Linked DNA regions of Homo sapiens: regions 1 and 3 are each linked to region 2. Evidence: fine-mapped expression QTL. A gene starts in region 2. Each other region holds a variant in brackets. All regions are shown on one strand. Distances are between the middles of the regions. Region 1 has its middle 30 kb from the start of MIR3924. Region 2 holds the start of ZWINT (ZW10 interacting kinetochore protein). Region 3 has its middle 61 kb from the start of ZWINT.

What was found.
Region 1: its variant is fine-mapped to the expression of ZWINT in whole blood (TOPMed, PIP above 0.99).
Region 3: its variant is fine-mapped to the expression of ZWINT in subcutaneous fat (GTEx, PIP above 0.99).

Annotation. Positions count from the first base shown.
Region 1 is chr10:57,269,189-57,279,571 of GRCh38, forward strand. No RefSeq gene overlaps it. Among named protein-coding and RNA genes, the nearest start is that of MIR3924, 30 kb to the right of the region's middle. The variant T/A (reference allele first, on the strand shown) is at 4,833.
Region 2 is chr10:56,358,599-56,367,978 of GRCh38, forward strand. ZWINT (ZW10 interacting kinetochore protein) reads right to left here and starts at 2,661. Exons shown (of 9, transcript NM_007057.4): 1 at 2,598-2,661; 2 at 1,695-1,785; 3 at 1,420-1,543; 4 at 1,089-1,255; 5 at 878-934; 6 at 207-349; 7 at 1-126. The coding sequence starts at 2,638. LOC124902546 (a long non-coding RNA gene) reads left to right here and starts at 2,861. Exons shown (of 2, transcript XR_007062372.1): 1 at 2,861-3,258; 2 at 5,427-6,121. RefSeq lists enhancers at 546-1,745, 891-1,631, 2,371-3,110, 2,459-2,628 and a silencer at 2,719-2,928.
Region 3 is chr10:56,294,963-56,305,345 of GRCh38, forward strand. No RefSeq gene overlaps it. Among named protein-coding and RNA genes, the nearest start is that of ZWINT, 61 kb to the right of the region's middle. The variant G/A (reference allele first, on the strand shown) is at 4,924.

The DNA of each region.
Region 1 (10,383 bases), 910 kb after region 2:
GAAACTGTTGTTCCTGCTTTAAACTGGAAGTTAAAACATTTAATCTGAATTTTGTGAGGCCTCGTTTTTTTTAATAAAAAAAAAGCATAAGGATTTTTTCCTATGGCATAATTTAAAATAGTTATATAAACATGAAAATCAGTGTCAGAAAATAAAGAAAGCTGAGAAATGATACATAGCAGGTTGAGTAAAATAGAATTTTAAGTTTAGTATGTAGTTGAGTAAAAGCTCTAGAAAGAATGTTATCTGAAAATATTTTTAGAGTTAAATAATCATTTACAATACTACATTGCAAATGGTACCAATTCGCATATTATTTTAAAATACTGAGATATTTTATAAAAGCTATTCATAGCTTTTATCTGTGATGATATGACATTACAAAATTTCGGAAAATCACCCCTGATTATTACCAACCTTCTTTAAAGATCAGTGCTGTGGGACAGGGTGAAATGAGAACATCTCACAGTTACGTGCAGGTCAATCCAACATGTTGTGTATAAGATCTTACACAGACAGAGATTTAATATTAATTAAGACATAACCTCTGCCCTAAAGAAGATGGGGTCTAGCGGTGGAGACTAAAATATGCACAATTATCTGTAATGGAAAACAGTGTGTGAATAGGCAAGGAAGACAGCAATTGCCAGAGGGTCAGCAAGTCAAAAACTAATCATGAAAGTAACACCTGAGATGGGGCTCAATACCTGATTAGCATTTCAGTAGGCAGAAATGGTGAAGGAAATTCCAAAATTAGAGAAATAATAAGTAAAACTAAATGGGTGAATATGTGCAATATATTACAGGAGATAAGAAATAATCTGGTAAAAATGAACTGTAGCCTACGTGGCATTCAAGTTAACTTGGGTCCAGACCTAAAAAGCCCTGCCTAGCCACGTCACACCATTTACTGAAACAACGGCGGAGCTGCGCTTTATGCATGTGTATTTTTAATCTAATTTTGCTTTGTGTTTTCTATAGAGAAAGAATTCAGACGCCAGGCGCGGTGGCTCACGCCTGTAATCCCAGCACTTTGGGAGGCCGAGGCGGGCAGATCACGAGGTCAGGAGGCCGAGACCATCCTGGCTAACACGGTGAAACCCCGTCTCTACTAAAACTACAAAAAATTAGCAGGGCGTGGTTGCAGGCGCCTGTAGTCCCAGCTACTCGGGAGGCTGAGGCAGGAGAATGGCTTGAACCCGGGAGGCGGAGCTTGCAGTGAGCCGAGATCGCGCCACTGCACTCCAGCCTGGGTGACAGAGGAGACTCAGTATCAAAAAAAAAAAAAAAAAAAAGAATTCAGAAAAAAATGAATACATTTTTCCACACATCTTTTTCCATTCGAAATACAAAAGCTTAATTGAAGCTCATGGGGAAAAATATCCATTTTACAGCTTTAATATGTTAATGAGCAAAGGCTATTGTTTCCCGGCCCTCAAACTCATTATCAAGGCTTTATTTTGTTTTTATAACATTTTTTCTTTAAAAATTTACAAAGATAATATACAAACACACCATTACAAATAATGTAAGCAGTTGCCATGTGTATTGACAAATTTAAGACAATAACTTTACAACTAACTCATTCTCACTCCATCCCTAGAGATGAAAAAATGTTTGATATGTATTCTGAGAGTATATACAGTATATATTGTACAAACACATTTTCTTTATGTAAATGTATATGTAAATATACATTGTTTTGCACCTTGAAATTCTATTCACCTAACAATGCTATTTCATTGCTCACTTTTCTGGTATTAAGCTTAAGAAATAAAGGGACTCATCTTGCCTTCCTCCCTTATTTCAGGGTTCATGTTACTGGTGTCAAAGGCCTAAATTTTTTTTCCCAGTATTATAGCTATTTATGATAAAAGGCAAGTCAAAGTCCCCCAGGAACTCTCTTTCCAGCTTTTCTTAAATAAAATTGACTATTTCTGCAACATAATCTGAATATCAGTAGTTTGAAGCCTAGCATATCACTAACTAAAATACTTTCAGATTAAAAAATTAATTGCATGTTAAAAGGCCAGGAACAGTACATGTTGTGGATGGAAACTCCTATTGTTCTTTATTTCATTCTTTTTTTCTGATTTTTCTTCACATCAACCCTTCCCCTATCAAGGTCATAAATTTAGAACCTCTCTTTTAGGTATGGCTAGCATGCAGAGTCCTCTAATTTTGCTAACAACTCTTAAATGCAATTTTCTTATCCTTTTTCAAAGTATTTTACATCTGAAATTCTCATCTACTCAGTTCTTCTCATAGAAGAGATTGGCGCTCTCCAGCTCAGGCAGAAGTTTTACCAGAAATGGGAGAAAATTCCAACACCAAATTGACTAAATCTCATTTATGGTGAAGAATCCCATTTGAGAAGCCTGCTGGGGCAGTGTAGAGATAGTCAGGCTTTACGGAAAAAACAGGAAAAATATTTATTACAAACTATTCAAGTTTTCCTATTATTTGTGATTTTACTACAGCAAAGAAAGATAAGTACTAGTGACAATATAGGTAATATACTCCGAGGGATGGGTGAGCTGAGAATGGAGTGAGAAAATAAAAACAGAACAGATAATTTGGAGCATTTCATTAATATGTACTGATTGTGCTGTACTGGGCTGGTACCTAGAAAAATTATCTTTGAGAGACAGTCCATTTAAAGTAACATTCTCCTTTAATGGTTTGTATCTTAAATTCTAATTACCATTGTGACAAACTGGGACATTAGTACATTTGTATTAGTATTTTAAATTAGCATAATAATTGTACATATTTATAGAGTGTAATGTGATATTACAATTCATGTATACAATGTAATGATCAAATCAGAGTAATTGGGATATCCATCACCTCAAGTATTTATCATGTCTTTGTGTTAAGAACATTCCAAATCTTTTCTAACTATTCAAAAGTGTACAATAAATTATTAACTATAGTTATCCTACAATGCTATAGAACACTATAACTTACTCTTCCAAGTCTAGCTATAATTTTTTATCTTTTAACCAACTACTCTCTAACTGCTTTCCTGCCATCCACAGCCTCTAATAACCACTATTCTACTTTCTACTTCTATGGATCAACTTTTTTAGCTTCCACACATGAGTGAGAATATGCAGTATTTTTCTTTCTGTGCCTGACTTATTTCACATAACTTAATGTCTTCCAGGTTCATCCATGTTGCTGCAAATGACAGGATTTTATTCTTTTTTATGGCTACATGGTAGTCTGTTGCATATATACACCATTTTTTTTATTCATGTGTTGATAGACCTTTAGGTTGATCGTGTATCTGGGCTATTGTGAATAGTGTTGTAATAACCATGATGGTGCAGATATCTCTTTGATATACTGATTTTCTTTCTTTTGGATATATACCCAGTAGTGGGGTTGTTGGATCATATAGTAGTTTTATTTGTAGTTTTTTGAGGAACTTCTATACTGTTTTTCATAATATCCATCCTAATTCACATTCACACTTAAATAAGACAAACTTGGTGAGCGGATTTGTTTTTCTAGGAAAATGACACATAGGTAAAATAATGACAATTATTTGAAAATTAAGCTTTCAAATTTCTCAAACCCCATTTTGACCCCTGCAGTGACCTTTTACCTGTTGGGTCATTGTGATTGAAGGCTTTTGGTTTTAAGAGTGCCAAATATCTTGGATGAGTGGGATTGGACTAGGTCAAGTTAAAATGCTACGTAAGTGTTTATTGCTATTCTTAAGGTCCTTCAGAGATTTACATTGATTAAATTCTCCTCAGATATGAAAAGCTTTGGCTAATTTCCAGGGTTCCAAAAAGTTGAATTTGATAAGTTTGCTGGTATTCTTATTGCTTTAACAGAGAAGAGGATTTTGGAAGTCCTTATTCTGTCATTCCTAATGATGTCACTTTTCACTTTGACCTTCAAGGTATGCAGCAAGACAAATTTATTTGGTTCGGAATTATGCTAGTTTATTTATTCATTAATTTGCATATTTAACAATATTTGTTTTAAAAATATTTAATCTTGTACTTATTTATTCTTATTTTTCTAACATATAATTGGCTAATTAAATGTAGATGAGTATGAATGTATTTGTTTGTTTTTCTCAGTGCATAGGTGAGTTTCTAGGGGTAAACTAGGAACTTGTAGAACAACTTTAGGCCCTACTAGTGTTATATAGCACAGAGTAGTTTAGAAGAATATACTTTTTATAACCTGGAATTTCACTGCATGTATGAGTGGAAGTAAAACCATACATTTTACCCAAATGTAATTACAAAATATCTTTCTCATGTTTACATCCAGGAATAAATATGGCAAAAATTATTCATTTTTAAATTGAGTAAGATGGTCATTCAGGCATATCGTTGAATATATTTCTGTATGACATGCAATTTATTTTATCACTTTAAAAAGTCAATTGACCACTTTTATATTAGTCATACCTAGAAAGAGTTAGCTGCAGAGAAATACGAGATATTTAGTAAAGTGTTATACAGTAAAGCCAAAACACCCACCTCATAAAATATCTTATGCAGTTGTCCAATTACAAAATAAAATTTTCTCACATTGTCCTTTCTTCTAGGTTGTTTTACAGTTACTAAATAGTTCAACTATTGGCCAGTAAATAACTATTGGTAGATTCATTATTATATGCTACTATTTCTCTATGGAAGTGATAACCCTATGTAACGACAGACTAAGAAAAAAGAGAAATGACTCATAAATAAAATCAGAAACAAAAAAGACATTCCAACTGAAACCACAGAAATACAAAGGACTGTTAGAGTCTATTATGAATAACTATGCACTAACAAATTAGAAAACATAGAGAAAATAGA[T/A]AAATTCCTGAACACATAAAACTTACCAACATTGAACCAGAAATAAATAGAAAACCTGAACAGATCAATAGCAAGTAATGAGATTAAATCAGTAATAAACAGCCTCTCAATAAGACACAAGCCCAGAACTGAATGGCTTCACTGCTAAATTTCACCAGACTTCAAACAACAACCAATACCCCTGAGACCAAAACCAGGTAAGAACATAACAATGTAAGGAAAGTGCAGGCTAACGTCCCAGATGAACAAAGATGCAAAAGTCCTCAAAAAATATTGCAAATCAATTCCAACAGTACATCAAAAAAATTATACCTATGATGAAGAGGGATTTATCCCAGGGATGCAAAGATGGATTGTACACATGAAAATAAATGAACATGATATATCACATCAACAAAATGAAGGACAAAAACCATATGATTGCTCAACAGATGTAGGAAAAACAGTTGATAAAATTCAATATTCCTTTATTATAAAAACTCTCAACAATTAAGCTTGGAAGGAATGTAGCTCAACACAATAAAGGCCATAAATGAAAAACCCCAGTTAACATCTACTGAATGAGAAAAAGTTGAAAGCTTTTCCTGTAAGAACTGGAATAAGAAAAGTTTGCCCTTGCCCATATTTACTGCTCTTATTTAACATGCTACTAGAAGTCCTGGCCAGAGCAATTAAGCAAGGGAATGAAATGAAGGGCATCCAAATGGGAAAGAAGGAAGTCAAATTGACCCTGTCTGCAGATAATATGACCTCATGTAGAGAAAAATCTAAAGATTCCACCAAAAACTCTTAGAGCTGATAAACAAATTCACTAACATAAAATCAACAAACAAAATAGGTAGCATTTCTATATACAAATAACAAACTAGCTTAAAAAATCAAGAAAGGGATTCCATTTATCATAGCTAATATAAAAAACCACCTAGGAATGAATTTATCCAAGGAGGTGAAAGATTTCTACAAGTAAATCTGAAAATCACTGATGAACAAAACTGAACAGGACAGAAAAAAATGGAAAAATGTCATATGGTCATAGACTGGAAGAATTAATATTGCTGATAATACTATCCAAAGCAATAGGCAGATTCAGTGCAACACCAATCAAAATGCCAATGACATTGTTAACAGAAATATAAAAAAATCCTAAAATTTGTATGATACCACAAAAGTCCTCAAATAGCAGAAGCAATCATGAACAAAAAAAATAAAGCTGGAGTCATCACACTGCCTGACTTCAAAATGTCATACAAAACTATAGGAATCAAAACAGTATGGTACTGGCATAAAAACAGACACAGGTAACAATGGAACAGAATACAGAACCCAAAAATAAAGCCATGCATCTACAACCAACTAATTTTTGATAAAGTTGTCAACAATGTATGTTGAAGAAAGAACAGTGTCTTCAATAAATGATGATGGAACAACTAGATATCCATATACAGAAGAATGTAACTAGACCTCTAACTCTCAGACTTCTAACTCTCATGTAAGAGCAATTAAAAATGGATTAAAACTTAAATATAAGACTCAAATGTATGAAGCCACTAGAAGAAAATATAGGGGAAATGCTTCAGGATATTTGTCTGGGTAAAAATTTTATGAATAAGACCTCGAAAGCAGAAAACAAAAGCAAAAAAGACAAAGGGGATTACATCAAGTTGAAAAGCTTCTTCACAGCAAAGGAAACAGTCAACCAAATGAAAGGTAACATAGAGAATGAGAGAAAATATTTGCAAACTATTCATCTGACAAGGGATTGATACCCAGAATATACAAGGTACTCAAACAACTCAACAATATAAAAACAAATAATGCAATTCAAAATGCACAAATGATCTAAATAGTTCTCAAAAGAAGATATAGCAAGTTTTTATTTTTTTAAAAAAGGCTAAACATCACTTATCAGCAGGGAAATGCAAAGCAAAACCATGAGATGTTATTTTATTTTTTATAATGGCTACTATAAAAAATACAAAAATAACAAATGCTGGTAATGACGCAGAAAAAAAGAAACTCTTATGTAAAGTGAAAAGTGACATTATCAGGAATGACAGAATAAGGACCTCCAAAAGTCCTCTTCTGCATAAAAATGATAAGAACGTCAGTGAAATTATCAAAATCAACTTTTTGGATCCTTGGAAATTAGCCAAAGCTTTTCACATCTGAGGAGAATTTAATCAATGTAAATCTCTGAAGGACCTTAAGAATAGCAATAAACACTTAATGTAGCATTTTAACTTAACCTAGTCCAATCCCTCTCATCCAAGTTATTTGGCACTCTTAAAACCAACAGCCTTCAATCACAGTGACTCAGCAGGTAAACAGTCACTGCAAGGATCAAAATGGGGTTTGAGAAGTTTCAAAGCTTAATTTTCAGATAAGTATCATTATTTTACTTATGTAGCATTTTCCTAGAGAAAAATACACTCACAAGGTTTGTCTTTGCTTACATAACTTGCAGCTCACCCTGTGCTAACATTTTCCTTGAGTCATTTGTCAATGGAAATCAATGACAGTTGTTTAGCATTATCATTTAAATGTTAAATTAAGGTTGTTATTTAAAATATGGCAAAATGTAAACTAATTCAAAAAGTTAAAATAAATAGCCAAGAAATAAAATTTTGGAGGGGCTTTGAAAACCTCTGGCATATTTCTGTTAATTTTGAAGGTGGTGCACATATGTAGGCTTAAGTATATGATGAGGGCTGTGTGCACATTAAGAAAACACCTAAGTTCTCATTTCTGGCTGAACTTGAGGCCCTGTACAAATAGAAATTGAAAGTTAAGGCAAAGTTTTGGGCTGGCCCTTGAAATTAACTAAAGGATTTCAAAAACCTTGGAATTTTTTTTCAAGAAAAATGTTTAGTTGTAGATAAGAACAGAGAGAATAACAGCTTCACTGAACATTGAAGGTATGCCCCAATACATACCTACCTCCTTTGCAGAGAATGAGAAACGCTGGTTGCAGGTATTTAAGAAAATCTCTTTAACTGACCACTCATTAATCAACCACTAAGCTAACTGAATAGAGATTTTTAGCAGACCCACATGAGAATGAATACAGATTTTAAAAATGACTTGTCACAAAATAAATATTAACAATGACAACAAATAACTATAAAAAGAAACAACAACAAAACCTAAGGATGGGAGATAATCTGTATTTCAGAGTTGGAACACTATATATTATATGAAATGTCAAGTCTTCAATTTAAAAATCATGACATGAAAGGAATACAAAAAAAAGTCCCATACAAAAAAGAAAGACAACAAGAAATGGCCCTTAAAGATTCACAATTTTTGATCATTAGTCAAAACTTTAAAATCACCTATTTTCAATATTTTCAAAGAAATAAGCCACATTTAAAGAACTAAAGGAAAGTATACAAATGATGTTTCATCAAAGAGAGAATAATGATAAAAAGATAGAAATAAAAAAGAATGAAATAAAAACTGTGAAGTTGGAAAATATAGTATTTGATAGAAAAAAATCACAGAGAAGCTCAACTAAAGATTTGGGCTGGCAGAAGAATGCATCTGATAACTTGAGAGGGATGAATTGAGATTAGCCATTATAATGAACAGAAAAGTGAATGAAGGAAAATAAACAGATCCCAAGGACCATAAGAAACGTTATTATGCATATCAATTTATACATAATGAGAACCCTGAAAGAAGAGGAAAAAGAGATGTAGGGTAAGAAACAATATTTGATGAAATAATGATTTAAAAAATTCCCAAATTTCATGAAAACCATTCATCTGTACATCCAAGAATCTCAGTGAACTGCAAGTGGGATGAATTCAAAAAGATCTAAATCTTCACACATCATAACAAAACTTTCAAAAGCTAAAGAGGGTATCTTGAAAACAGCAAAACAGAAACAACTCATTATTTACAATGCGCAGAAAAAAAAGTCTGACAATCAACAGTTCTACTAATATATGAATAGAAGTTAATCCTTCAAAAATAAAGAGTTTTTCAGATAAACAAAAAGTAAAATAATGTACTACTAGCAGACCTGCCCTACAAGAAAAAATGCTAAAGAGAGTCGTTTCGGTTGACATGAAAAAACACTAGAGAGTAAATCAAATTCATGTGAAGCAATAAAGATTACAAGTAAAAGTAACTAGATAGATAAATATTAAAAAAATATATTTTTGTTTGTAATTGTTTGTATCCCATATCTTCAAGACAACTACACAAAGCAATAATGATCACTGTTTATTTCTATAAACTCGCAATGAACAATACAAAAATGAAATTAAGAAAACAATTTCATTTATAATAGCTTATAAAGAAAAATTATATATCAATAAATTTAAATCAATGCAAAACTTGTATACACAATACTACAAAATAACATTTTGATAAATAAAATAAATGTAATTATAAAAAGTAAAATAAATTGAATGATATCCTTCATTTCTGGATCAGAACACTTAATATTATTGAGGTGGTAATTACTCCCCACATTGATCTGCATATTTAATTAATCCCCTTCAAAAGCACATAAAGCATTTTTGTGGAAATCAATAAATTGATTCTAAAATTCATATAGAAATGTTAGAGACACAGAAGAGCCAAAAGAACCTTGAGGAAGAAAAAGCTGTAGGACTCACGGATTCTGATTTTAATGCTTGCTAAAAAAAAAAAAAAATCAAAAACACAGAAACAGAGAATAAAAAGTGGTTAAGGAGGTGGGGATGAGGAAAAAATGGGGAGATAAAGGTCAAAGGATACAAAATAGCAGATATGTAGAATGAGCAAGTTTAGAAACATTGTACATAGTGAGGTCTCTACTTAATAGTATTATACTGTATTCAGGACTTTTGCTAAAAGAGTAGATTTTGGGCACTCCTGCCATGTACATACAAAATAGGTAACTGTGTACAATGATGAATATGTTAATTTACTTGACTTTAGTAATCATTTCACTATATGTATCTCAAAACATCATGTTGTACACTTCAAATATATAAAACTGAAGGTATAATATATAAAACATAAAGCTTCCTAGGAAGTTACAGTAATTAAGATGTGTGCTACTAGCATAAGTTATATGAAATATAACTTATATGATATGTTATATATATCATATATCAATGTAACTTGTAAGTTATCAATATAATTTTTATGATATATAGAAGTTATATAGCTTATGTGACATATGTAATGTATATATAACACATAACTTATATGTTATATATAACTTAACTGCACTGTATGTATGAAAAAATGAATATTGATATATATATAAAATAATTGGGACTCGGGATCTCTCATATTTATGGGCAATTATACAAAAACACTGCCAAGATAATACAACGGGGACAAAGAACAGTCTTTCCAAAAATGGCGCTGAGACAACTATTTATCCACATGGAAAAGAATTGGAACCCTTATCTTATGGCATGTACAAAAATTATCTAAAATTACATCAAGTTCCTAAATGTGAACACTCAAACAGTAAAACTCTTAAAAGAAAACAGTGTATTTTCTTTCTTAAAATTTTTATTTTATTTTACTGTAAGTTCTGGGATACATG
Region 2 (9,380 bases):
CTCTGCTCCTGGGGTCGAGTCGGCTGCTGGGGTTTATCATCTGGAAGATTCTCTGCCTCAGCCTCAGCCTCAGGGAACAACAGCTTACCCTGCAGGGTATACAGAAGCTGGAGGAAGGTCTGATACCTACAAAGAGGAGGTAAGTGTGAAGGAAAGGAATCTCAGCTGGACCATTTTGAATCTGCAGCCCATGCTCCCGAACTTACCTCTGCAGCTTGTCCCGCTCCTGTTCTGCCTGCTGCTTCAGGTTTCCAAGTTTCTGAAACACCCTGTCAAGCTCCTGCTGAGTCCCTGTCTTACGCTCCCTCACCTCTGCAGAAACCTCCGCCAGATGCTGCAGATGCTTCTCCTGCCAGGAGTGAGCATGCAGACATTATGCATCAGATGTTGAAGTCTTAGAAACTCCCTCCAACCCCTCCAGCCTACACCCAGCTCAGGGCTCAGGCTCAATGATGAAAAGAGGGACTCTATTCACTTCAGGGTGGAGTAGGGGCCTAGAGAAAAGGAAAGATCAGAATGAGCTGTTCTAGGGTGAGGCATTCTTGCGGGGAAGGGGCACAAAGGTGATAACACTTATTTAACTTGCTATGTGCCAGGTACTATTTTAAAGTCCTTGCTGTAATGATCATTTAATCATCTTAATAACTCTCTAGAGTAGGTGGTATTATTGCCTTCATTTTAAATAAAGAAACAGAAAGTTAGGTGACCTGCCCAAGATCATGCAGTGGTAAGTGGTGACACTGAGATTCAAGCCCATGTTGGTATTTATATTATAGTGCCTCAAAGGAGGAAGCAAAACGGTTTTCTAGACAGGGGACACAGCCGATACAATGGCATGGTGGTGGGAAGGGATATTCTCCTAGGGGGACGAACCTACCTGTTGTAGCTGCCACTGGTTCTGGACTGCTCTGCGTTTCTCCATGGCCATTTGTTTCTACAGATAAGCAAGGGAGAAAGACCAAGAGAAGTCTATTTTTTCTGGCTAGAATTTTGGGAGATTGCAAGCTGGCACAACTCAGCTTGCTCACTCTTTCCCTCTTCCTTTCTAACTGCCCTTCCCTCCCTGTACTCAAGACCCCTGGGTGTACCTTGGCCTGGAGCTGCTCAAAGGCTTCCCGGAGTTGTGTCCGTTTCCTCTGGGCTTCCTCCATCTGAGTCAGGGCCTTGGTGAGGCCAATTTTGATGGCCTCTACGTGCTCCCTGTAGGTGGCCTTCAGCTCTTTCCATTGTTCCTTAGCTGCAATTGCCTTCTGTCCTGAGATGAGCCACCAGGAATGAGTACATGAGTGAGGGTGGCCTGCTAGCCTGCCTCCCTGCAACACTGGGCCTCCTTCCCATCAGCCAAATGGGAGACCTAACTGAAATCCTCCTTCCTTCCCCACTCAGGTCAGCTGCTACTACAATCCCCTGCCTACTCACGGCTCGTGTCTTCAGAAGCCAAGGGGTCGAGACCCTTAGCAGTGTCCTCCTGAGCCAGGATGTTCTGCAGGAAATCCGCTACCTGAAGCTGGCTGCAGAGCAGCTTGTCTTTCTTCTGAGAGTCCTGCTCAGAGGGAGGGCAGAGACAGGGAACATCCTTACCTCCTTACAGGTTTCCTTAAGTCTGCTCTCTGCCAGTGCTGCCCTGTATCTCAGTAAGAGGAGCCAGGACCAGACCCTGGCTTCTGAAAGGCTCGCTCTCATCTTGTACATACCACCACAAACTCAACCAGGATCTTGGCTGGCAGTTCTGCCTCCTCCTGCAGGCCTACAGGTTCCAAGATGCCTGCCACCTCAGCCAGGACCCTGGAGGGGCAAGGAAACACAGGAAATTGCAGTTTCTTGTGGTGCTAGTTCTACAGTTCGTGTGTGTACACAAACAAATGTGGATGTGTATATCAGTATATATAGTATTGAGAGTCTTGCCTTGACCAGAGTTTACACAAGGGCCTGAAGGGTCCACAGCCTGCAACCAGGAATGGCGTGCATGGAGGGCACACGGTGGTAATACGTGCCAAAAGGAAAATCAGCAGGGCTAGTGGATAAGGAGTTTGAGAAAAGAGCTGAAATTTTAAATAGGGAGTGTCTCACTGAAGAGAAATCATTTGAGTCAAGATGTGAAGGAAGCCAGGGAGATATGCAAGGAAGGGGAAGAATGCTGGGCCTTGGGATCCCTCCTGGCGCTGAGCACCAGCCTTGGGGCAGAGTCTTGGAATAGCTGAGAAAGGACTCAGGGCAGAGGGCTGGATGCCTCGGTCTACTCTAGGGTTTTTCATTATTAGGGACTGGAGCAATCTACGAAGGGGCAGGGATGGGGATGAGAAGTGACTGGGAATGTGTCGTGTTGGGACAAGAAGACAGAAGTGAAACCGTCTCCTAGAGCACATCCTGTGGATTATGTGGATGTGGGGAGCGGCGAACGGTCCCCCAAAGGCTGTACTCCTGGAGCAGGCAACAGACACCTCAGGAACCTAAGACGGGACTGCGGTGAGGATCACTTCACGGCAGGGTCGAACCTCAACAGCTGTACAGGGTCGAGGGCACCAATCATTACACATAGGGGCCCACAAGGTCCTCCCAGGCCCGGCCCCAGCTGCCACTTAGCCGCAAACACTTACTCTAGGGCTGCAGCTTCCGCCTCTGTCTCCGCTGCCTCCATCTTTCCAGGCGCCGAGTTCAGCTGCCTTCCCACAATCCCTAAGATTACTTTGAAGTCACAGTCGACTTCGCGCCGGGGCAGGCGATTGGCTGCAGAGGTTAGTGGGCGGGCATCAAGGACCATTGTGCGCTCTAATTGGCAGGCGCGGATTCGCTCGTTGGCGGGCCTCGCTGCTTGGCGCAAGCGCGGTTATGGCTAGGCGCGCACGGGCTCTGCGCCTGCGCGCTAGTCCTTACGCGGTGCCAGAGACTATAAGTGGGCTTGAGCTCGACCGCGCGCCTGTGGAAGTTCTTTCTCTACTCGAAAAAGGGAAAGCATTTCCTTGAGTTTGCGTTTTAAGGGAAACTTACAGCATTGACACTTTATTTAAAATATTCACTACTGCTGTAGAAAAAAAAAAACAAAACCCCGAAAAACAGTGGGGCTGTTTCTAAGACGCTGGGAATCAGTAAAGAATAGTGATCCGGGAGATACAGGAAGCAAATGATCTGCGCTCAAAAAGCGAGCTGCTTTCAAAGATATTAGTATTTTATAGATGCGATGCAGGAGAGTGAACTCAAGCAGAGCCCAGCCGATTGCCTGCGTTGGCAAAATAGAACAGATATTCTGGGGAGACCAAGGTAGGTAATGTTCTTTGCAGAGTACAGGAGAAAGATAACTGCTGAGAGAGAACTTGGTATTCATTCAGCTGAGTACTGAGCAGTATGTGTCTCAAGAAACTAGCTAAAAGATTTTTAAAGATACCAGGACATGGCCGGTCGCGGTGGCTCACGTCTGTAATCCCAGCACTTTGTGAGTCTGAGGCAGGTGAATTACGAGGTCAGGAGTTTGAGACCAGCCTGGCCAACATGGTGAAACCCCCGTCTCTACTAAAAGTACAAAAAAAATTAGTTGGGCGTGGTGGTGGGCGCTTGTAATCCCAGCTATTCGGGAGGCTGAGGCAGGAGAATTGCTTGAACCAGGGAGGCTGAGGTTGCAGTTAGCCGAAATTGCGCCACAGCACTACAGCCCTGGTGACAGTGCGAGACTCCGTCTCACAAAAAAAAAAAAATACATATATATATATATATAAATATATATATATGGACATTACAGAGGGTCAGAAATAGTCTCTATTTCCACTAACCAGGCTGGAAAACTTCATAGTCCGTAGGACACTGGACAGAGTACACACAAAAAAGTCTTGATTTGATAGTTGTTTACTAATTATTTAGTAGGCAGTAATTAGTCCTAGCTGATCAGTGCTGTAGTGCCATCTAACTCTTAAAAGTAAGACCCAAATGGATCAAACTTAACAAACCATGACAGATGACAAGACCAAACTTCAGCAGTATTTATAGAAATAGAAAAATGTTCACCAAAGGTGCAATTTACATATGTCATACAAAGAAAAATTACCAAGCTTGCAAAAAGAAAAAAAAAAACACATAATGAGGAGAAAAATCAATTGCTGATCAGAACTGAAGTAATGTTAGAATCAACAGGCAAGGACATTAAAACAGTTATTGTAACTATATCCCATATCTTCAAAAAGATATCAGAACTATAATGAAAAAGGTAAGTGGTGCTAAGGATGTAAAGAAAGTGGAATTCTCATGTTGATGGAAATGTAAACTGGTGCATAGGCTTTGAACGTAGGGTTACCATATGAGTCACAATTTCATTCCTAGTTATATATCCAAGACAAATAAAAACATGGGGACACAAAAGTACACAAACCTCTATAGCAGCATTATTCACAAAAGCTGAAAGGTAAAAACAACCCAAAGGCCCATTAGCTGGTGAGTGAAAATGCATACTTTCATTCAATGAAGTATTAATCAGTAGTAAAGAGAACTTTATTACATGCTAAATAATGGTTACTACATGCTAAAATATGAACCTTGAAAATATACTAAGTGAAAGAAGCTAATTACAAAAGACCACATAATATATTATTTCATTTATGTGAAATGTCTAGATTTGACAAATCTATAGCAACAGAAAGTAAATTTATATAGTGCTTGTCCAGGGCTGGGGATTGGTGGGAATGAGAGGTTGAGAGAGTATGGGGAGGGACTGCAAATGGATATAGTGTTTCTTTTAAAGGGATAAATAAAATGTTCTACACTTCGGTTATGGTGAAGGTTGTACAATTCTATACAGAAAACCGCTAAATTTACACTTTACTGCTGTCATAAAAGCTGTTAAAAAAGTTAATCAAAGACACAAAGCTTGTAATAAAGACCTAAATCAAACTTGTAGAGGTGAACACTACAATGTGATAGATGGAATTAGATGGTATTAATATAGTATGTTACACATTGCAGAATGAAAGTGAAACACAGCTCTAGAGAAACTACCCAAAATCAATCACAACATTAAAAAATGAAAATAAAGTAACATGAACAAATCAATGGTGAGCTGTGAGACAACTTCTAACAGCCTAATAATATACTTGAAAGTGGAGTCTCAGAGAGGCAAGGGGAGAGGACAAGAAAACAAGTAATAAAGACCAAAAAATTTGAAATGTGATGAAAAATATAAATTCATATATTCAAGAAGCTTCACAAATCTCAAACACAAGAAATATTAAGAAAATGACATCAAGTTATACCATAATTGCATAACTCAAAACCATTGATAAAAAATTCTAAAGTAATAAGGGGTGTTGGGGCACATGTTACATAGAAACAAAGATAAGGATTACGGGAAATTTCTTCTTGGAACAATGCAAGCAAGACAGTAGAGTAACATCTTTCAAGTACTGTAAGAATAAAAAAAAGTCAACCTTGATTTCTGTTTCCAGCAAACAGCTTTCAAAAATGAAGACTAACTAGGCTGGATGCAGTGGCTCACACCTATAATCCCAGCACTTTGGAAGGCCGAGGTGGGCAGATCACGAGGTCAGGAGATCAAGACCATCCTGGCTAACACAGTGAAATCCCCCGTCTCCACTAGAAATACAAAAATTAGCCAGGCGTGGTGGCGGGCACCTGTAGTCCCAGCTACTCGGGAGGCTGAGGCGGGAGAATGGCATGAGCCTGGGAGGTGGAGGTTGCAGTGAGCCAAGATCGTGCCACTGCACTCCAGCCTGGGTGACAGAGCAAGACTGTCTCAAAAAATAAATAAAAATAAAAAAGAAGGCTAACTAAAGACATTCTTAAACACACAAAAATGGAAGGAAATTTTCAGCATAAGATCCCACATGAAACAAGAAGTTCTTCAGGCAGAATGAAAATGGCATTAGCTTCAAATCTGAATGTATACAAAGGAGTGAAATGTGGTCCTGGCTACTTAGGAGTCTGAGGTGGGAAGATCACTTGAGCCCAGTTCAAAGCTGTGATGAGTTGGTCATGCCATTGCACTTCAGCCTGGGTAACAAAGTGAGACCCTATCTTTAAAGGAAAAAAAATTGTGATGTGGGTTTTATAACATATGTAAAAGTAAAATGTAGCACAAAGTGTGGGAGAGAAGAAATAAAAGTAAATTTATATGCTTGTATAGTTTCTCTGAAGTTTTGTTATCAGTTGAAGGTGAACTGATGAGTTAAAACTGTGTTCTAGACTCTCTGAAGCAATAGTGCCAACACACTTTAGAAGGGCTACCAGTGAGTCATTTCCTTGTGTGATTTCTTTCTTTCTAGTGCAGATAGAAATTGTGACCAATAGAATACAATAAAGGTGATGGGATGTCATTCTATTGATTAGGTTGCTTGTTAGGCAGAGGGGATAGCATGCCACTCTCATGCCTCCATTTCCATGTATAGCAGAAGCTTAGCAGACTGCACAAAAAAAAGAGGGATTCTCCTTCTGGCCTGGAAGAAGCATACAACCATGTTGTAAGTTGCCTGTGGTAGTTATCACATGGCAAGGAACTCTGAGTGGCCTTTAGGACCTGTAAATAGACCTGAGCTGATAGCCAATGAATAGATGGGGCCCTCAGTCAAACAGCCCTGAGGGGATTAAGTTTCTACAAATAATCAAATAAAAAATAACGCTACTCAGTTAACATCGTGATTGAAAACTTGTGAGACCTTGAGCAGAATGCAAAACCTTGACCCAGTGAAACTGTCTTAAAATCTTGACTTGTAGAAACTGTGAGATAATAAATGTGTTTTTTTAAGATTCTAAATTGTGATAATTTGTTACATAGCAATAGAAAACTATTATAAACTTCTAAAACAAAGAATTGTAGGTAACAAATCAATAAAGGAGATAAAATATAAACAACTAATCCAAAAGAAGGCAGAAAAAGTGAAGACGAACAAAGAAAAAAATGAAGAGAATAAAAAACAAATAGCAAAATGATAGGTATAAGCCTAAGCATATGTGTTATCACCGTTAAATGTAAATACCTTAAATATACCATTAAAAGGGAGAGATTATTAGATTGGATACCACAGCAAAATTACGTTAAGTACACTAAATATAAAGAAATAAAAGGATGGAAAAATACCATGCTAATATTAATCAGATGAAAGCTGAAGTGGCTATTTTAGGGCATATATATACACACACACACACACACACACACACACACACACACACACACACATATATATGTATATCTATATATATATATCTATATATATATAGATATATAGATATACATATATATATTTGGGCAAAAGGCTGTCACCAGAAATAAGAAAGTGATATTATCATGATAAAGGGGTCAATTAATCATGTGAACTTAATCATAAATGTTTTTGGACACCTAATATGAGATCATCAAAATACATGAATCAAAAACTGAACTGCAAGGAGAAATAGATAAATCCATAGTCATTGTTGAGATTTCAATAAGCCACTTACAATAATTTATAGAACACTGAACCTAACAGCAGAATAGTCATGCTTTCCCAGTGTATACCCAATAGTCAAGTCCATATTATGGGTCATAAAATTAGCCTGAACAATTATAAATGAATAGTACAATGCAAAATATATAGTTTTTTTGTTTGTAAACGATCTAAATAGCCTCCTACATGCATTGAATGTGATGTTGTATGCTAATGTTGCAGTCTTTTTCTTTGACTTAATTAACTCCTAACATCTTTAGATTTCTGCTCAAATTTTTCAGACATGATCTAGATTATTGTTCAGATTTTTCAGACATGATCAAACCTTCCTTCACCTATATGCCTATATCAGGCCTCCTTACTATAGGCTCACAAAGCTCTACAGACTTTTTATCTAGTCACAGTTGCATTTTACATCTGCTTGTAGAATTATTTGAGTGATATCTCTTCTTTTCTAATAAGCTTATTGAGGATAAATGCTATTTTTTGTTAATAGTTGATACTAATAATTTGTTCTATGCACATAAGGGACAATTCATGCAAGGCTGCAGTAGGTCATTTTAAGCATATTGGTTTTATATAAACATAGTAGAAATCTATTGAAAGTTTCTTCATAATTAGATGGCAAGTCAGATTTTAGTATTGCAAAGTTAAGCCTCAATTATGGGTGGAAAAATAAAAGGTTGAAAAATGTGATTATTCCAGTAGGCTTAGTAAAAGGTGAAAACATTTTTGGATTCTATAAGTAACTTGGCACTAAAGATACAAATAGCTCGATATATTTAGGTGAAATACTTCATAGGTTTTATCATTTGTTGGATATGTTGGAGTTACTAAACGATGTATAAAATATGTTACTTCAGTTTCTGATGGTGCAACTGGATGAACTGTGATACAATTTATTTAAATAGTGATTCCTGGAAGATAATTCTATTTGACAAATGACAGAGGAAGATTTTCAACTTGATTTTGTTGACCTACCTATTAGAGGCATTTTAGCTATTCATGTATATATTTTTAAAAGACATTTGAATGTGTCTTGAATGGATAAGGAGGTTTAGGGCTTGGAAAAATGTGAGAACTGGAAATATATATTTGATCAACATAAATATGTAGGCAATTGAAACTGTGGAGGTCAATGGCATTCCGTATGCTGACTATAGAATGAACAAGAAAAGAATGCTGGAATCAATATAGTTGAGTAACTGACATATTGTGGATTTGTAGAAAAAAGATGAGTTTCTAGTAACAGAGAAGTACCTACAGTGACAGAAGCATTAAAGGAAATAAATTGAGATGCGTAATACAGAAAATTCTTAGGAGAATTTTCAGCAATTTTTCATTAGCCAATGTTTTAACGCTCTCCATTGCAATTTGTATTGTATGCATACTTCCAATTTAATGAAAAATGCTTTTCCTATGCATTCCATAAAGAATCTTCTTGCTTGACTAGTAAGAGTTCATTCTGCTTGATGTGTCTATGTTTTAACACTGTCTACATATTCTACATTTATGTTACAGTAGAGATAATAAATGACACTTGCTAAAATGCACATTTTGATTAAAGTGGCAGGGATTGGCTTTATGTGTGAGAGTTTAGATACCTTTGATCTATTTATCACAAATTCCTATGAAGATACTGCCTTTTGAATAAGATATTTTCCAAATGTATCAATGACATCACTGTTAACATCCAAATTTAAATAGTGTTTGATTAAACTGAAGACCAAACCGTTCAAGGATAAAACAACAAATTGCAAGTCAAAATGACATGCTACAAGGTGACGTTGGAAAATAGGACTTTAAACATCATACTGCATAAATTTGCCAACTCTATTTCCCCCTCTACTTGGCTCTGATTGGGAGAGATCTGGCCTAAAATTCTAGTGAAAATAACTGTAGATCAATTAAAAGGTATAAGTCTATGTCTTACTTTTTTCTGTGTTGTCCAATACGCAG
Region 3 (10,383 bases), 63 kb before region 2:
TTAAAAGTTAACACAGTAACATAACATCTTTCAATAAATGATAAAAATAAAGACAATTAAAATTCCCAATTATACAGTATGGGGAAGTGCTGTCTGCCTTAAATTTCTAGAATTTTTAAGTGGTCTTTGGCTCACATTTTTGGGTAATTGTCATATTACTTTCTTTTTTTTTCATTTCTTGGTCAGTGTGTAGTTTGCTAGTGCTGCAGTACGGAAGTCCACAAACTGGGTAGCTTAAACAACAGAAATTTATTCTCACATTTCTGAAGGTTAGAATTCTAAGATTGAGGAATTGGCAGGGTTGGTTCCTTCTGAAAGGTGTGAGGAAAATCTGTTTCATACCCCTCTCCTAGCTTCTGGTGGTTAAATGTTCACTGTACATTTTACCTCTCATTTTCCCCTTATAAGGAAGGTGACTAGGTCATCGTGAAGAGCTAATGATGAGCCTTAGTAGACTGGGGTAAACATCATTTAGCAGACGTTAAACAAATGTCTGTAATGTCTTATAGGGGAAAAAACTGCTGTATTTCATTGTAGACTCCTATTCTTAGCTAATTTCATAAGCCAACGCTGGCATGCAGTGGTAGCCTTCACATCAGAAACAATATCCTTTCCTCTGTGCCAGTCTGTGTTGATGGATGGCTTGCCTTGTCCATATGATCCAAGCAATGAGAGGGCAATCTAGGTGTTACTTGCTCAGTCAGCACTGAGATTTCAATCAGTCTCATGAAAGAACGAGATTTTATATTTATGGAGCATCAGATTTCAACACACATATAAGTATATTATAATTGCCCTTTGTAATTGAGAGAAACATGAATCCACTTGGACAGCATGGAAAGTTTACTACAGCCTATAAAAAGGCCACCTCACTAAACCCCAGCTAGGCATCAGCACAAACAAAATACTAGAATATTTTCACTTTTTCCTCTCTTTTTAAATGTAAAAAAAGAAAAAAAGTCACATTTCTACCAGATATGTTATAAGGTCATATAACAGCCTTTATGAGCTATTGACTCAAGATAACTAATCCCTGAATTTAAAATAACATATGAAAATGCCGTAAATACTGGACCCGAAGAAAATATAATGGAAGTAATTTGTTTTGGAATACACACCACCTGAGATATGCCCTATTCTAGTATATCTTTAGTACCTCTTCTAGATGCCAAGTCTCCTCTTGCTATTATCAGTAACTCAGTAGGCCACTGGGAATTTGCAGACATTAAGATACATAGTTTCTATTATTTTCCTAATTTCCTGCCCTAGTCATCCTTCACTAACTTACTATGCAATAATCTTTATATTCTACCCCACCAATGTCTTTTAATATAATAATACAATAAGTTAAATTATTTTCCTGCTCCTGCTAAAGCTAGTCAGTGCATTACTTGACTAGCTTCAGCCATTATGAGAAATCGTTAAATAAAATGGGATTAGAAGGTCTTATCTTGGCCCTATTACTTATTCGCTATCTGGAATAAATAAATAAGATATCCTAAACTTCATTTTCCTTCTCTAAAGATTGGAGATAATAACTATTTCTTTGTAAAATTCTTACAATTATTTATCATAAATATAAAATGAAACAGAGTATCAAAGATATGTGTAAACAGTAAAATGTGAAGTAAATAGGTAACATAAGTAGGTGATACTATAGGCTGGCAATTACAGACTGATTTCTGGGCTTCCAGGGAGGTATTTTTTACTTGGAAAAAAAAAAGAAAATAGACAAGAATTTCTCATCCTTAGCCTTGGGAGCTTGTCTTCCGCAATGCAATAAATCTACAGGTTTCAAAATAAATCACCATTGTTGCTGTGTCAAGGCTGATATTTGCATAAGACCTCTCTGCCTTGGGCTAGCCCAGAACACTACAGCATAGGCAAGCACCACAGCTCCCTAACTCTCAGAGTCCATATAAGGCTAACTACTGTGGGATCTGTTCTGCCATCTCTGTTTCTTTAACTTTGCCTTCAGGATGCCAACAGTGTTCCCCAGTAATTTATTTGTCCTATGATATTACTTGTTATTGAGTGGGTGGTTAAGGATGTAAAAATTATTTTTTCTCATTTTGAGAGATTTTATTTTCTCCCATAGCCATCATTATTAAGGTGTCAAATGCTGTACTGAGTAATATTAAAACCACAATCTCATCTATTTCTTATTACTTTAATCATATAACATAGTGATTACTATAATTCATATTTTACCAGTGAGAAAGCTAAGGCACAGATGAATTCAATCACTTATGTGGCTAATAATGCTACAGCGGGTTTGGAATCCGAACATCAAACTCCAGGGTTTAAGCTCTTAACTTTATCATATTGTTTCATATTTTCCAAGATAATCACTGACAGTTAATAAGTCTGGTCCCAAATTATTTGTTTATGATTGTTAGGAATAAAATGTTAGGTAAAAATACTGCACTAAAAGACATCATCTAGTCATTAATTTTACTCCATTTCTCAGATTTAGGGCCTTAATATTTTCCCCTTAGTAATATTATTTTTTTAGTAATTTATACAAACCTCTTTAGAGTTAATCTCATGTATTTTAATAGCAACAGTAGATCAAAATCATTGACTGCTTAGAAATAATGGAGAAATTTTAAATTAAATTTAAATCTTAAGTGTCCAATGTTGACACAAATGAGAGACACATCTACCTTAATTATGAAGTCTGTTAAATTACTCTCAATTGGAAGACTATCTAGCAATTTGTTTCTAAATCAGTTGGTCACAAGAGCTTATTTGAGCTGACTAAAAGTCAGCATAACATTTTTAGAATAATTTTAACTTTGTTTCCATAGCAATAGTTTTGTATGCAAGATAATGCCATCAATACCCAGGGGCTTGTAGTTTTTGTTGTTTATAGACATCAGTGTTACCTATGAAAAAATCATGTGTCTGAAGTACTTGAGTTTTTATGTAAAAATCAAAGCACTATCTTATTTTAATATGTCTATCATTCTCTTCTTGAATAGGATCGTTATGTTGAATCACATAAGTTAATTCTTCTTTGCTTTACTTGATGTTTTTATCTGAAGTGCAATAAGCATCATTAGTAAATATTATTCTATAGATACTGGTATTGAAGACTAGGTGAATTATACAACTCTAAATATGATACGGAAAATGTGAATAGATTGAAACATTTCATAAAAAACAGCACATTTGAAAAGAATGTGAAGATTTGGACAAACTCAATATGAGTCACATTGATAGATAAAGTATCTTCACCACTCCTGTCCTCTATCTTTAATGAAAGTATTCTGTCCTAAGAACAGAAAGGTAGACTCCTCAAATTTTACTAGTCAAATCATGTCTTAAGTATGATGTTCACTTTTAGCTCTTATTCTGAGACAAACTAAAGAAATGTAGTGAAGAGAGTTAATTGTCGAATATCTTAAAACAATTCAATTGTTAAAGAAATGGAAGAGGTATAGGTTGGGGGTGAAAATACACAACAATGGATTTGAAGATCACAGCTCTCTTCAAATTATTGAGGACTTGCTCTTTGTGTCTTTTGAGCTCAGATAGAGTCTCCATTAGTTATGTGAAATTATACGGAAGTAATTTTTGACACCAAAGAGGACTCTGATGTTTACTTCCTCTTCTGTAAGTACTTCACTGGATCATTATATAAATCCTGACCTTTAAAACTCCAACATATTTAATAAATACATATATATTTAAAAAATCAGTCTTTTTAATAGATGAATGAGTTGTGGTTCAGAGAGGAGAGGTAACTTGCCAAAGTTCACGCAGCTCCTAGTTGTTGGAGTTTAGCTTGTACTGCCTGTGCCGTGTTTCTTTCTTTGTCCCAAGCTACCTCCCTATAGGCTCTTATACTCTGAGGAATGTTATATGGACGATACTGGTACTTTTTTCTTCTTAAGTTTACAAAAGAAATTAAAAGTCTTTTGGATTGCCTCAGTTTTCAATAAAACTCCTTCTCTATTTAATATTAATTGTTTGAAAACATTTCCCAAGCATACACATTTTTATAACCAAATTAGGAATATTGATTTTAAAAATCTTCAAATTTCCTTACAATATATAGTAGGTGTCCCCAACCCCTGGGCCACAGACTGGTACCACGCTGCAGACTGGTAGCTTTCTGTGGCCTGTTAGGAAGTGGGCTGCACAGCAGGAGGTGAGTTGCAGTTTAACTAGCATTACCGCCTGAGCTCCGCCTCCGGTCAGATCAGCTGGGCATTAGATTCTCACAGGAGCAAGAATCCTATTGGGAACTGTGCGTGAGAGGCATCTAGGTTGCACTCTCCTTATCAGAATCTAACTAATGCCTGATGATCTGAGGTGAAATAGTTTCATCCCGAAACTACCCCCGACTCTGTCTGTGGAAAAACTATCCCCACAAAACCTGGTGCCAAAAAGATTGGGGACCACTGATATGTAGGGTTCCAATTATTTTGGAAGACATGAATTAAGAGACTGGTTGAAGTTCACTAGGCGTTCTTTGCTTCTAAGGTAGGTACTGTGTTTCTTTAAATTATGCTTCTATAATGATTTTACAAAGGGTTAAGTAACTGAATAACTAGTTCTATTGTTAAATATAATGGATTTATGTTCATTTCTACATTGTTCCTTTTATGAAATACATGTCTTTCCAATATAATGCATTTTGTTTTCAGATTTTCTGGGTCACAAAATCCTGAGTTTATTTGTCTATTTTAAGTGAGGGTCTGCAAACTAATTCTAAATATTGCCATACTTGCCCATAATGATTTACAGAAAATCTGTAGTCAATATTTGCTCAATAAACAAACAAATTTTAAAAGCCTCTTATATCCAGTGTAGCATGTATTAGTGACTGTTCTTCAAAGTTCCTAGTTCTATTCTTAAGTTAATTGTTATAAGCAATATAATGTGTGTGTGTGGGGGGGGGGTAAAATAGGTAGG[G/A]TTAAGGAAGTAAAAGAAACAGGGTTACAACTATCTTGATCAAAAAAAGAGCAACTGAGCCAGCTTCAGAAATTGATTTTTCCTATTGCTATTGTTGATTGATTAATAGGATCAACTTTACTTGGTTAGTTCTTTTATAAAAGGGTGGCTAGTTATACAAACAAAGATTGTGTTTTAAACTCATTACTCTCTAAATATGATCCTCAACTCTCTGATTTAGAGTGAGCTCAAGTTACTAATCCAACAATTCACTTGACTGTGAAAACATCTCATGCAATTCCAAATAAAATAATATGACATTACTATGCAAATATATTGTCTAAATTCTGTGATATGGTACCCCTGCAGAGCTCTGACCTAAATGGATTGAAAAAACTGGGAAAAAAGTAAACTGATTTAATGATATGACTATAGGATCAGTATATGTGTGTATATAGAATTAGTTTTGAAAATGCAAAGCTATTATTATGAATAACATAATAATACCTTTGTACTAAGTAATATTTATTCTGAGCACTTGTCTGGCCTTGATAAGATACACTTCGAGGCATTAGGGTACTTACAAAACAAAATATATTGCATATTTTGTTTTATTGCATAAAATAAATCCATGTATTCCAGATCTCTTACCTGTCACATAAATTAAGCCACAAGTTATCTTTAAATGTTTGAATATGTAATACTCATATTTAGAACTACTAATAAAATAGGTTATAAAAATAGAATTTTTTTATTACTTTTAACTATTAAAGACTTCATATTAGCTCTTATCCTGATGGTTGAAAAGAAGGTCCATAATTTTACTGGCAAAAATAATAAAAATAAAAACATATATATAGTCATCCCAAATGATAGCAGTCTTCAAGGATAAATACATAAAAAAAATTATAATGTGTTTTATTTAGATATGTATATGCTGCATCTAAAGGTGGATCCATAGCAAATGAGAGAACCTGTTACAACTACAATGAGAACATATTTTTACAGTAAAAAGTATCTTTGGAAATCATTGGTTGGTTAATTTTCATTTTCTTTACATCTAAATTACACTATGTTATGGTAACTATGTATGGCAATTAACATCCCTTTTTTGTGGCAGGCAAAATTCTAAAATGTCTCTCGTGATTTGCACACCCTGGCATTTCTCCCTTATGTTATTGCACTTGGCAAAAATGATTTTCCAGATGTAATTAAGGTCATTTGCCAATTAATGTTAAAAGGAGGAAATTATATGAGTAGGGCTAACCTAATCACTTGACCCTTTCTATAGAAGACGGTCTGATCTTCAACTATGACTCACACTGATCCCACAATAGTCCTTCTGTGATGCACATCTAATCTTCTGCTTATAACCTTTCCACGTTAATTATAGCTTTCAGAATAAGATTCATAGATATTTGTTTATCACACATAACAGTTCGTAATTTTCTTTTATTCTTTTTAGACTCATCTTCTATCATTCCTTCAAACACATTATTTTTTTCAGGTATACTTCAGTACTTGAATTTTGGAAGACATTTTTGTTTCACAAGTCTGTGTTTTATGTTTCAATATGTTTGCTCCTTCTCCTACTACTCTCATAGTCCTTTTACTTCTATACTGTAAACATCAGTTTACTTATCACTCTATGTCATTTGATGCTGACTGAGTTCTTTGAGGATGCCTACTGCCAAGCAACAGTTTGATACCTTGTGATCTACTTTATCAAATATTTGAAGAGTCAGAAAAAAAAGACAGGAAATAAGAAAAACCAGTATTCATATAGGGCTTTGTATCATGCCAGGTGTTTTCATTTTGCATAATTGGTACTTTGAAAGAGAGATTAAAGCAAAGTATCAATACTACTCTGAAAAGAAACCAAAATAATATTAATGCAGCTGATGGACATTGACTTAAGCCTTAAAAGAGAGATAAATTTTTTAGTAGTGTGAATGATATTATAGGACATAAACCAAGGTACTAAGTCAGGAAGGCACAGATTGTGGTTAGGGAATAGAAATATAAATTCTATTTTATTAGGCATTTACATATACAGTATTGAGAAATAATGGTAGTATGTAAATAGATTTGGGTCATGATGTATAATGCTTTTAGGAACAAGTAGGAAAATCTATAATTAATTCTAAAAGCAATAGGAAGTCAGTGAAGATTACTTTTCACTTTTTGAGACTAATTCTCTGTTTAGGAAAATTATCTAAAATTCTCTTTCATCACCCAAAAATGAGATTTATCAATATCCAACTTTGAAATTTTATTTAAATGTAAGAATATTTCAAATTATTACTAGTAAGGGAATCTATAAAATAGTTGTGTTTTCTGTTAGCTCCACTAATACATTATAAGAAACTTGGATGTACCTTTTATCTTTTCTCCCCAAATCACCTAGCACATTGTCTTATTCAGATAAGATGATCAATAAACATTTTCTACATTCAACATTCCTATGGTGTGCTAGTCATCAAAATATTAGCATTTAACAAAATACACTTAATTCAGAAATGTAATGAAATCCAGCTTACTCCCGTTTTTAAGTTTTCCCAAGGTACTCCAGAATTTTGTAGATATCTGAATAATTACTGTAATATCAACTGTCACTCTTTATAATTAAAAAATATGCATACATGAGATTTTTCCTGTTTTCATTTCTTAATGTATGTAGTACTTATTAAGGAGTCTTTGTTCAAGGAACAAGTCAGAGTTAGACCTATACTTATGAAATACTGCCATTCATATTTACCTTACTATTTTATACTTTTAATCTATTTAAGATGTTTTGTACATTTATGATTCTACCAAAAAATTCCAAGAGTTTTCTATTGAGTGTACCAGCTCACAGGCTCTTTAGAAAAGAGTTCTTATATTGCTGCATTCTGTTATCCCTATAGGCATTTTTTATACTTGTTCTACCTATATGTACTGCTGTTTCTGTTAGTAGGTTGGAAGAATGACAACTTTGTGCATCAAAGCTATGCAGGGAAGTTGGTAGTGCTCTTTTACAGTTAACATAATTCTTGCTGTTTTTCCAGTCCTCTGTCCTCTAGGCTGTGTTGCATACATAATAATGCAAGACTGGAGGACACCAATAGCATCTGCAAATGACAAGATACCTTCAGATGAAGCCTAATTCCAAAAAGATTAAATAGTTATCCACATGTAGATTATATAAACTTTTAGGAGGTAAGTATTGCTTCAATAACTGACCTCATTAATACAATTGCCATTATCAACTGCTTAAATTAAAAAAAAATCAAGCCAATGAAAATTTCTTGAGCATCTTTTATTGTGTGAAGTATTTTCCTGGGCGACTAGGGTAAAATACATTAAAAATATATGTAGATATACATACCTTCTGGATTGTGGCTAAGATTATTTTCAAATTATCACTATTGTGTCTTTGCATCTTTTTATTTTTCCACTTTCACATTTCTTGTGGTTAAAGCTTATATATTTAAGAGAGTTCAGTTTAGTTTGTTGTAGATGTAACACATAAAAGAAAGTCATAGGTAGACTTTTTATGTCTATTCATCAATCATATCTCCAGCACTGGATTAACAGGCCAACAGATATGAATGAACCTCCCAAGAGGATATGCAGGTCATGTTAACCAGTGCTGAGGGGAACATGAAAAGTAAATGAATGTATTCTTGTCCTCATGGTGCCTATGCTTTACCTGACTCTTACTTGTTACTCTCCTAAACTAGAATGGAATACCTACTTTGAGGTGGTATTACTTATTTAATTTAAATAAGTACTTATTTAAACTCGGTACCGTTGAGTCCAATATACTCATTTTATAGAAGATAAAACATTTTCTCATTTATAGATGGAAATGGTGGCAGAAAAATGGAAGTGTAGCTAATTACTAAAGGCAGTCTATTAGGCATTCAGCTTGTTGCCTAGATTGTAGATTCTAGATCTATATTCTAGATTCTAGATTATAGATCTAGATTCTAGATTTGTACTCAACTTCCCATATCAATATTGCCTACTAATTCTGAACTCAGAGGAAGGTATATTAAGTGAACTTCTGGCAGCCCCACAATCCCCAGATGGCTCTACTTGCAGCACATATTAAGACACACACACATACACTCACCCACAGTCTATTCATAACTAACTAAAAAATGAAACAATTCAAGGAAAACCAAATCAAAGTGTACTTTGTATAATATAAGTAAGTGCTACTGTCAAATATGTGTAGCCTGGAGTATCTGAGAAAGAGTGTAGGTTTCCTTTCTGAGCTATGTTTCATAATGTCCTTTCTGAGCTACATTTCATAGTCATCTAGCAGCCACAATGATATCTTTATGAGAAACACCTAGTGTTTCAGATGAAGCCTAATTCCAAAAAAATCCAATAAATTGCATGGCATTTAGTTTGAATTCAAAAAATGAAATTTCTTGAAAGAAGTTTTTGTCATGCTTGGAAGCCCAGTGGGTGATAGAGTCTGATATAAGCAGTTAGGGTAGCTGGTTATTATGAGGATTTCTGTTCTCAGTTAACTTATTGCCATCATCCGCTTCCTAAACTCATTTGCAGTCACCAGCTGTCAAAGGGAGGTTTTACATTTAGCAATAAGAAGCTGCATCTGGACACCAGATTTCTTGTAGTCTTTAGAGACATCTATCATATCCTCTTTAGAAAAGAGAATAATCAGCTCAGTTTGAGTTGTAAAATTTTTTCAGAATATTTATTATGAATTTATTTTATTTATGTATTTATATGTGTATGTTTGTATATGTCTATATTATGTATTTACACATGCATGTGCCTATAATTTTATTTTCAGATAAATCCAGAATTCATAATTTTTTATTATTCCTAGAAAATAGTTATTGAAATTTTTAAAGAGATTGCTATGTATAAATGGCTATCTAAAATATAGTCTATTCATTGATTATCTTTCATTTCTGAATAATGAGTTAATCAGTAGTGTGAACTTTGTATGTAATTGAAGGTAAAATATTTAAAGTCAACTTCTTTAACAATTTTAAGTTACTTTCAATGGAGAACACATTATAGTAGATTCTTGATGCTTTCAGGGAACAGATCTTAATACAATTGTGATTCTTATTATTCGTCACCACTGTGATAAATGTTAATATATCTAATGTGATAGGCTATAATCTAGATCATTTTTTCCATACATAGTAAATTAAGAGAAACAGTGCAGCCCTGAGTTGCAGATGTGAGCTGTGCCTGGATTTTTTCTGTTGCTCTGCCTCTTACTTTACATATTGATCTTTTTTTACATTTTGTGATTCAGCAAAATGCTAAACAGTTACATAATATTGATCTTCATGCTCACTCTTAATCAATTTCACAAATGTTAATCCTAAAATAATTACTCTGGCAAATTTGAGTTTCTTTTTAATCATTTCTTATTTTTTATAAGTTTCAGGTTACAAGGACATAACCTCTAAATAAGTAAAATGTTACTGCCCCAAACACATCGATTGA